3 linked regions of the Homo sapiens genome follow. The protein of the gene in region 1 interacts with the protein of each later gene in a biochemical or structural test. Each region holds a gene or a part of one and is shown on either strand. Other genes may lie near its edges.

What was found.
Region 2: the proteins of ITCH (region 1) and UBE2R2 form a complex in vitro, tested with the Homo sapiens proteins (one study listed by BioGRID).
Region 3: the proteins of ITCH (region 1) and GJA1 interact in a test that uses a peptide from one of them, tested with the Homo sapiens proteins (one large-scale study listed by BioGRID).

What each region holds. Positions count from the first base shown.
Region 1 is NC_000020.11:34,506,082-34,509,324, forward strand, and holds part of ITCH (E3 ubiquitin-protein ligase Itchy homolog), read left to right. Parts: intron 1-1,613; coding exon 1,614-1,713; 3' UTR 1,714-3,243. UniProt on the Homo sapiens protein: Acts as an Acts as an E3 ubiquitin-protein ligase which accepts ubiquitin from an E2 ubiquitin-conjugating enzyme in the form of a thioester and then directly transfers the ubiquitin to targeted substrates.
Region 2 is NC_000009.12:33,897,098-33,900,840, forward strand, and holds part of UBE2R2 (ubiquitin-conjugating enzyme E2 R2), read left to right. Parts: intron 1-3,076; coding exon 3,077-3,174; intron 3,175-3,743. UniProt on the Homo sapiens protein: E2 ubiquitin-conjugating enzyme that accepts ubiquitin from an E1 ubiquitin-activating protein, and catalyzes its covalent attachment to other proteins by an E3 ubiquitin-protein ligase complex.
Region 3 is NC_000006.12:121,447,937-121,450,227, forward strand, and holds the end of GJA1 (gap junction alpha-1 protein), read left to right. Parts: coding exon 1-60; 3' UTR 61-1,791; downstream 1,792-2,291. UniProt on the Homo sapiens protein: Gap junction protein that acts as a regulator of bladder capacity. A gap junction consists of a cluster of closely packed pairs of transmembrane channels, the connexons, through which materials of low MW diffuse from one cell to a neighboring cell.

The sequences.
Region 1 (3,243 bases):
TTGAGACATGTCTCAGTCTGTCACCCAGGCTGGAGTGCTGTAGCTCAATCTCCACTCATGCACCCTCCACCTCCCGGGCTCAAACTGTCCTCCTACCTTAGCCTCCCAAGTAGCTGGGACGACAGGCATGTGCTACCACACCTGGCCAATTTCTAAACTTTTTGTAGAGACAGAGTCTTACTTTGTTGCTCAGGCTGGTCTCGACCTCTTGAGCTCAAGCAATACTCCTGCTTTGACCTCCCAAAGTGCTGGAATTACAGGCCATCATGCCAGACCTAAAACATTTTTCATCTTGTAAAATTGAAATGGTACCCATTAAAGCAGGGGTCCCCAACTCCTGGTCCCCAGCCTGTTAGGAACTGGGCTGCACAGCAGGAGGTAAGTGGAGGGTGAATGAGCATTACCTGCTGAGCTCCACCACTTGTCAGATCAGCAGAGGCATTAGATTCTCATAGGAGCAATAACTATTGTGAACTGTGCATGTGAGGGATCTAGATTGTGCATTCCTTACGAGAATCTAACCTGAGGTGGAACAGTTTCATCCTGAAACCATCCCCCTCTCCACTCCTGTCCATGGAAAAATTGTCTTCCACAAAACCATTGCCTGGTGCCAAAAAGGCTGGAGACTGCTGCTTTAAACAATGACTCCCCATGACTCCCTTTCCCCAGGTCCTGGCAAACATCATTCTACTACTGTTTCTATGATTCTTTAGTACTTCGTAAGTGTAGAATCGTACCTTATTTGTCCTTTCCTGGCTGGCTTATTTCACTTAGAATAATATCTTTAATTTTCATCCATGTTGTAGCATGTGTCAGCATTTCCTCCTTTTTAATGCTGAATAATATTTGATAGTCTGGATATACTACATTTTGTTTATACATTCATCTGTCCATGGACACTTAGATTATTTCCACCTTTTGGCTGTTTATGCTGCTATAAACATAGGTATACTGTGGTAGAATATAGATATATCTGTCCATGGCCCTGCTTTCAGTTGTTTTGGGTATATACCCAGAGGTGGAATTCCTTGATCATGTAGTAATTCTATTTTTAATTTTTTGGGGGAATCTCGCCATACTGTTTTCCATAGTGACTACACTGCGTTATATTCCTACCTGTAGTGCAGAGGGGCTCCAATTTCTCCACATCCTCACATCCTTTTCAACTCTTGTTTTCTTCTGTTTTTTTTTTTTTTTTTTTTTTTTTTGGTTGTTGTTGTTGTTGTTTTGGTGTTTTAAATAATAGCCATCCCAACAGGTGTGAAGTGGTATCTCATTGTGGTTTTTATTTGCATGGTAAAGGATGTTGAGCATTTTTTTAATGTGCTTATTGGTCATTTGTATGTCTTTGGAGAAATCTCTATCCTTTGTTCATTTTTAAATATTGTTGAGTTTTAAGTTTTTTATATATTTTGGATACCAGTCCTTTATCAGATATATGATTTACAAATATTTTTTCCCATTTTTGGGTTATTTCACTTTCTTGATGGTATCCTTTGAAGCACAGTAGTATATTTTTGTGCTTCTATAGTAGTGTATAAAGTAGTATACTACACTACTCATTTGATTCTTTGCATATTTCCTTTTCTCAAACTAACAATTCTTGCTTTTAGTTTTAATCGCCTGGACCTGCCACCATACAAGAGCTATGAGCAACTGAAGGAAAAGCTGTTGTTTGCCATAGAAGAAACAGAAGGATTTGGACAAGAGTAACTTCTGAGAACTTGCACCATGAATGGGCAAGAACTTATTTGCAATGTTTGTCCTTCTCTGCCTGTTGCACATCTTGTAAAATTGGACAATGGCTCTTTAGAGAGTTATCTGAGTGTAAGTAAATTAATGTTCTCATTTAGATTTATCTCCCAGTGATTTCTACTCAGCGTTTCCAGAAATCAGGTCTGCAAATGACTAGTCAGAACCTTGCTTAACATGAGATTTTAACACAACAATGAAATTTGCCTTGTCTTATTCCACTAGTTTATTCCTTTAACAACAATATTTTATGTGTGTCAAAAGTCTCACTTGGGAGTAGTGTTTTTTTCTTTTAGACATTCTGCAGACATGCAGGGAAGTCCTTTGGTAACTGCAATATACAAGATTTTCCTATTAAGCCTCTTGGTAAGAGGCATTTGTTAAAAGTGCAAGCTTACTCCTGCTTCTGGGGATGTGAGCAAAATTCGGGCTTGTGTTCTCCCTCTCATTTTAGTCTGACTTGACTATTGTTTTTCCTTTCTGGCGCATGAATCCATACATCATTCCTGGAAGTGAGGCAAGACTCTTGCATCTCTACAAAGTAGTTTTGTCAATTTGAATTCAGGGAAAAGTTGGTCACAGCCTGCAAATGACTTCATTTGGAAGTCTGATTGTTTCAGTTGCCTGACAAATACTACACTTTACAAACAATGTTAACACTGTGATTCCTTCATTGTTTTAAGAAGTTAACCTAGGGCCGGGCATGGTGGCTCATACCTGTAATCCTAGCACTCTGGGAGGCCGAGGCAGGAGGATCCCTTTAGCCCAGGAGTTAAAGACCAGCCTGGGCAACATAGGGAGACCCTGTCTTTTTTTTGGGCAGCGTGGTGGGGGATAAATAAATAAAAGGAAAAAAAACTTAGCCTAGAATTAGAATTAATTTAATTGAATTCATCTAAAGATGTCTCTGGTGATTTTTATATGTTCCGCTATATAATTGATGCTTTATAGTTTTATCATAATCCAACAACTTCAGTTATATTTAATTATTGTTAAGGAGTTTAAGACTAGAAAGACTAGAGTGCTTTCTAGTCCAAATAGAGGTCAGTGAAACAGCTTTTGACATCAGATTTTCATTTGAGAGGGAGAGCTGTGGTACTGGCTAAAAAGAAAGGAAGATAACATCCAGTAACCACAGGAATATATTCTCTGTGAATTAAAAGTCTTCAAAGTTATCATTTCTCTGACATATGTTGGAGTAGTCATTTCCATTCTTTACATTGTCATGAACTGGATTGATAACCCTCATCTGCAATATTTTCACCCCTAAAATTTTTAACAGGGTTTCCTTTTTTTCTCACGACTATTTAAGTTTAGATTGCTCCATTATTAACTGATTAATGCACTTTGAAGTTCTCTGGAATTAATTATTTTAACTTGGCCTAGCTTCGACTGTCAAGGTGGCTGTTATAAATTTGACTTCATTGGCAGTGGATGAAGCCTAAGCCAGCTGAGTCTCTATCATAGCTGAACCCTGAGGACAGCCTCATA
Region 2 (3,743 bases), on another chromosome or scaffold:
GCGATCTCAGCTCACTGCAAGCTCCGCCTCCTGGGTTCACGCCATTCTCTTGCCTCAGCCTCCTGAGTAGCTGGGACTACAGGCGTCTGCCACCACGCCCGGCTAATTTTTTGTATTTTTAGTAGAGACGGGGTTTCACCATGTTAGCCAGGATGGTCTCAATCTCCTGACCTCGTGATCCGCTGGCCTCGGCCTCCCAAAGTGCTGGGATTCAGAAAAACTCTTTTTTTTTTTTGGAGACAAGAGTTTCGCTTTTGTTGCCCAGGCTGGAGTACAATGGTGTGATCTCGGCTCACCGCAACCTCCGCCTCCCGGGTTCAAGTGATTCTCCTGTCTCAGCCTCCCGAGTAGCTGGGATTACAGGTGCGTGCCACCACGCCCGGCTAATTTTTGTATTTTTAGTAGAGATGGGGTTTCATCATATTGGTCAGGCTGGTCTCGAACTCCTGACCTCAAGTGATCTGCCTGCCTCGGCCTCCCAAAGTGCTGGGATTACAGGCGTGAGCCACTGCACCTGGCCAGAAAAACTCATTTCTACATTTCCCATAGGTTGTTTAAATTGTTATTATTAAAGGAAAGCTCATCTCAAAGCTTCCTCAACAACAAAGCCTTTTATCTTCCACCCCACCTCCCACGCATTCACTGCCCAAATATACCAAGTTTCTCTTTTCTTTTTTCTTTTTTTTTTTTTTTTTGAGATGGAGTTTTGGTCTTGTTGCCCAAGCTGGAGTGCAATGGCACAATCTCGGTTCACCACAACCTCCACCTCCCAGGTTCAAGTGATTCTCCTGCCTCAGCCTCTCGAGTAGCTAGGATTACAGGCATGCACCACCACGCCTGGCTAATTTTGTATTTTTAGTAGAGATGGGTTTTCTCCATGTTAGTCAGGCTGGTCTCGAACTCCTGACCTCAGGTGATCTGCCCGCCTTGGCTTCCCAAAGTGCTGAGGTTACAGGCGTGAGCCACCACGCCCGGCTCTCTTCTTTTTGTTTTTTGTTTTTGTTTTGAGATGGAGTCTCGCTCTGCCGCCCAGGCTGGAGTGCAGTGGCGTGATCTCAGCTCACTGTAACCTCTGCCTCCCGGGTTCAAGGGATTCTCCTGCCTCAGCCTCCTGAGTAGCTGCGATTACAGGTGCCACCACGCCCAGTTAATTTTTGTATTTTTAGTAGAGATGGGGTTTCATCATACTGGCCAGGCTGGTCTTAAACTCTTGACCTTGTGCTCTGCCTGCCTCAGCCTCCCAAAGTGCTGGGATTACAGATGTGAGCCACCATGCCTGGCCTCTCTCTTCTTTTATCTGTAGTAACTTTTTACATGCCTTATGGTATCTAACCATAAGGCAGTGTGTTAGAATATAATATTTTGTATTAATTTTATTTTAAAAATATTTTATATTGATAATGGTTACATATATATTCATATAGTTTCTATGTGTCTAAATTTGGGTTGTATATGTAAGATTTTTGCACTTTATATAGTTATACCTCCAGTTTTTTAAAAATATAAATCTTAAGTCGTGTGTGGTAGCACACCCTAGAGTCCCAGCTATGGGACTACTGAGGTGTGAGGATCACTTGAGGCCAGGAGTTAGTGGCTGCAGTGCACCATGGTTGTCTTATGCATAATCACTGCACTACAGCCTAGGTAACATAGTGAGACTCCCATCTCTAAAGACAGAAAGAAGTTAAATAAATAAATAAATCTTACCTTCCATGTTAGGCTAAGTCCAAGAGATAAGTCACTGTATTTTACCTAACTTTATCTTTTCTATTGAATTGTGTTCTGTATTGCACATGGTGGGCAATCCATATGTGTATGAATTAACCTAAATGTACTTGTGGATTAAGTTGTGTTAAGTTTATGAAGCAAAATATAATAGCCATAGTGGGAAGTCATTCTAACCATACCTTGAGGATGTTAACATTTGCTGCGAGGCATATTTTTGGTTTATATAAGTCATGGTTATTGACATAGCATCTATCTGAGTAGATATTAAGCAAGGTTAGATATTTTTTCTTCCTTTTTATGTACTCTAGGTACACAGATATATCTGAAAACAAAGGGATATATATTTGGCTGCTTCTAAGACAATTGAGTCTTGATTTATTATGTTTGTCTTTTTTTTTTTAAGATGGAGTCTCATTGTGTTGCCCAGGCCGGAGCACTATCTTGGCTCACTGCAACCTCCGCCTCCCGGGTTCAAGCGATTCTCCTGCCTCAGCCTCCTGAGTAGCTGGGATTACAGGCGCGTGCCACCACGCCCGGCTAATTTTTGTCTTTTGTTTTTGTTTTTTTGAGACGGAGTCTCCCTCTGTTGCCCAGGATGGAGTGCATTGGCGCGATCTTGGCTCCCTGCAACCCCCACCTCCCAGGTTCAAGCGATTCTCCTGCCCCAGCCTCCTGAGTAGCTGGGATTACAGGGGAGTGCTACCACGCCCGGCTAATTTTTGTATTTTTAGTAGAGACGGGGTTTCACCATGTTGTTCAGGCTGGTCTCGAACTCCTGACCTTGTGATCTGCCCACCTTGGTCTCCCAAAGTGCTGGGATTACAGGCGTGAGCCACCGCGCCCAGCCAATTTTTGTATTTTTGGTAGAGATGGGGTTTCGCCATGCTGGTCTCAAACTCCTGACCTCAGGTGGTCCACCCGCCTTGGCCTCCCAAGTGCTAGGATTACAGGCGTGAGACACCGCGCCCAGCCCCAGTCAATTTTTTATCAGGATTGTACTATAGGAATAGTAAGTCTTCTCACTAGAAAATATACCTTGGAGATTGGTCGAAATAAATATTATATTTTAATGTTCCTAAGTAAACATAGGGATCGTTTGTTTCATCAGGATTGTTCTATAGGAATAGTAAGTCTTCTCACTAGAAAATATACCTTGGAGATTGGTCAAAATAAATACTTTTAAAATGCTTAATTATTATTTATCTTTGATGTTGAACATAAAAAGCAGAATTGTTTTCTCCTTTGATGAAGAAACAGTTTCTAGGAATAAAGGAAACTTTAGAACCGATGTCCCTTTTTGTACATCACTTTTTGAGTATTTACTGAATGTAATGTTTGTGTCTTGTAGAATGGAGATGTATGCATTTCGATTCTTCATCCGCCTGTAGATGACCCACAGAGTGGAGAACTGCCTTCTGAAAGGTGGAATCCTACTCAGAATGTGAGGTAAGGAGGAATCTGGTTTTGGAGTTATTCTTAATCTCCTTATTGTCTTTGCTCCTAGTAAAATAAAATTATGTATTGTCTTTTAACATGTAAAAAATCATCTTTCTTATATTCAGTTTCTTTGTCTTTAGCTAGAGCTTTAAGAAATATGTATGCGTCATTTTGAAGAGCTGTATTTACTAAACAATAATGTATATGATTCTCATTTCCCTATGTTCACTTAGGAATAGATTTTCAAGCCTGAATCCCTACTCTTAACTTATCCTAGTTCTACTCTGGTTCTTTATTACCACCTAACATTAGTGTCATTCATTGGTTGCAGTTAATAAACAATGTTAATTCATTATAAGTAACTGAAGTCCATACGCTTTCACATTTCCTTTGTTTTTACCTGTCGTTGTTTTGCTCCAAAATATTTCATACATATAAATATATATCTATATATGTACGTGTATACATATATGTATTTAAATTTTTTGTAGAGATGGGGTCTCACTAAGTTGCCCAGCTGGTCTCAAACTCCTGGCCTCAAGCAGTCCTCCCCACTTGGCCTCCCAAAGCGCTGGGAT
Region 3 (2,291 bases), on another chromosome or scaffold:
TCAAGCAGAGCCAGCAGTCGTGCCAGCAGCAGACCTCGGCCTGATGACCTGGAGATCTAGATACAGGCTTGAAAGCATCAAGATTCCACTCAATTGTGGAGAAGAAAAAAGGTGCTGTAGAAAGTGCACCAGGTGTTAATTTTGATCCGGTGGAGGTGGTACTCAACAGCCTTATTCATGAGGCTTAGAAAACACAAAGACATTAGAATACCTAGGTTCACTGGGGGTGTATGGGGTAGATGGGTGGAGAGGGAGGGGATAAGAGAGGTGCATGTTGGTATTTAAAGTAGTGGATTCAAAGAACTTAGATTATAAATAAGAGTTCCATTAGGTGATACATAGATAAGGGCTTTTTCTCCCCGCAAACACCCCTAAGAATGGTTCTGTGTATGTGAATGAGCGGGTGGTAATTGTGGCTAAATATTTTTGTTTTACCAAGAAACTGAAATAATTCTGGCCAGGAATAAATACTTCCTGAACATCTTAGGTCTTTTCAACAAGAAAAAGACAGAGGATTGTCCTTAAGTCCCTGCTAAAACATTCCATTGTTAAAATTTGCACTTTGAAGGTAAGCTTTCTAGGCCTGACCCTCCAGGTGTCAATGGACTTGTGCTACTATATTTTTTTATTCTTGGTATCAGTTTAAAATTCAGACAAGGCCCACAGAATAAGATTTTCCATGCATTTGCAAATACGTATATTCTTTTTCCATCCACTTGCACAATATCATTACCATCACTTTTTCATCATTCCTCAGCTACTACTCACATTCATTTAATGGTTTCTGTAAACATTTTTAAGACAGTTGGGATGTCACTTAACATTTTTTTTTTGAGCTAAAGTCAGGGAATCAAGCCATGCTTAATATTTAACAATCACTTATATGTGTGTCGAAGAGTTTGTTTTGTTTGTCATGTATTGGTACAAGCAGATACAGTATAAACTCACAAACACAGATTTGAAAATAATGCACATATGGTGTTCAAATTTGAACCTTTCTCATGGATTTTTGTGGTGTGGGCCAATATGGTGTTTACATTATATAATTCCTGCTGTGGCAAGTAAAGCACACTTTTTTTTTCTCCTAAAATGTTTTTCCCTGTGTATCCTATTATGGATACTGGTTTTGTTAATTATGATTCTTTATTTTCTCTCCTTTTTTTAGGATATAGCAGTAATGCTATTACTGAAATGAATTTCCTTTTTCTGAAATGTAATCATTGATGCTTGAATGATAGAATTTTAGTACTGTAAACAGGCTTTAGTCATTAATGTGAGAGACTTAGAAAAAATGCTTAGAGTGGACTATTAAATGTGCCTAAATGAATTTTGCAGTAACTGGTATTCTTGGGTTTTCCTACTTAATACACAGTAATTCAGAACTTGTATTCTATTATGAGTTTAGCAGTCTTTTGGAGTGACCAGCAACTTTGATGTTTGCACTAAGATTTTATTTGGAATGCAAGAGAGGTTGAAAGAGGATTCAGTAGTACACATACAACTAATTTATTTGAACTATATGTTGAAGACATCTACCAGTTTCTCCAAATGCCTTTTTTAAAACTCATCACAGAAGATTGGTGAAAATGCTGAGTATGACACTTTTCTTCTTGCATGCATGTCAGCTACATAAACAGTTTTGTACAATGAAAATTACTAATTTGTTTGACATTCCATGTTAAACTACGGTCATGTTCAGCTTCATTGCATGTAATGTAGACCTAGTCCATCAGATCATGTGTTCTGGAGAGTGTTCTTTATTCAATAAAGTTTTAATTTAGTATAAACATAGCTTCTATATTCCGTGTGATTTGTTTCCCCTGCCGAGATGGAGTCTTGCTCTGTCACCCAGGCTGGAGTGCAGTGGCGCGATCTCGTCTCACTGCAACCCTTGCCTCCCGGGTTCAAGCAATTCTCCTGCCTCACCCTCCCGAATAGCTGGGATTACAGGCACCGCCACCGCACCTGGCTAATTTTTGTATTTTTAGTAGAGATGGGGTTTCACCATGTTGGCCAGGCTGGTCTGGAACTCCTGACCTCGTGATCCGCCCACCTCAGCCTCCCAAAGTGTTGGGATTACAGGGGTGAGCCACCGCACCTGGCCTATATTTAAAACTCATTGACGGCATCTATTTGAGATTATTTAAACACATTTCTATTGGTTATCAGAACTTCAGCAAATAACAGTCATGTTTTCAGGGACAATATTTATCATTAGCTCTGTTCAGTGCAACATAAATTGTAAACATTTTTGGATATTTATTGAACCAAAAGGAAGATAAAGTGTTGAA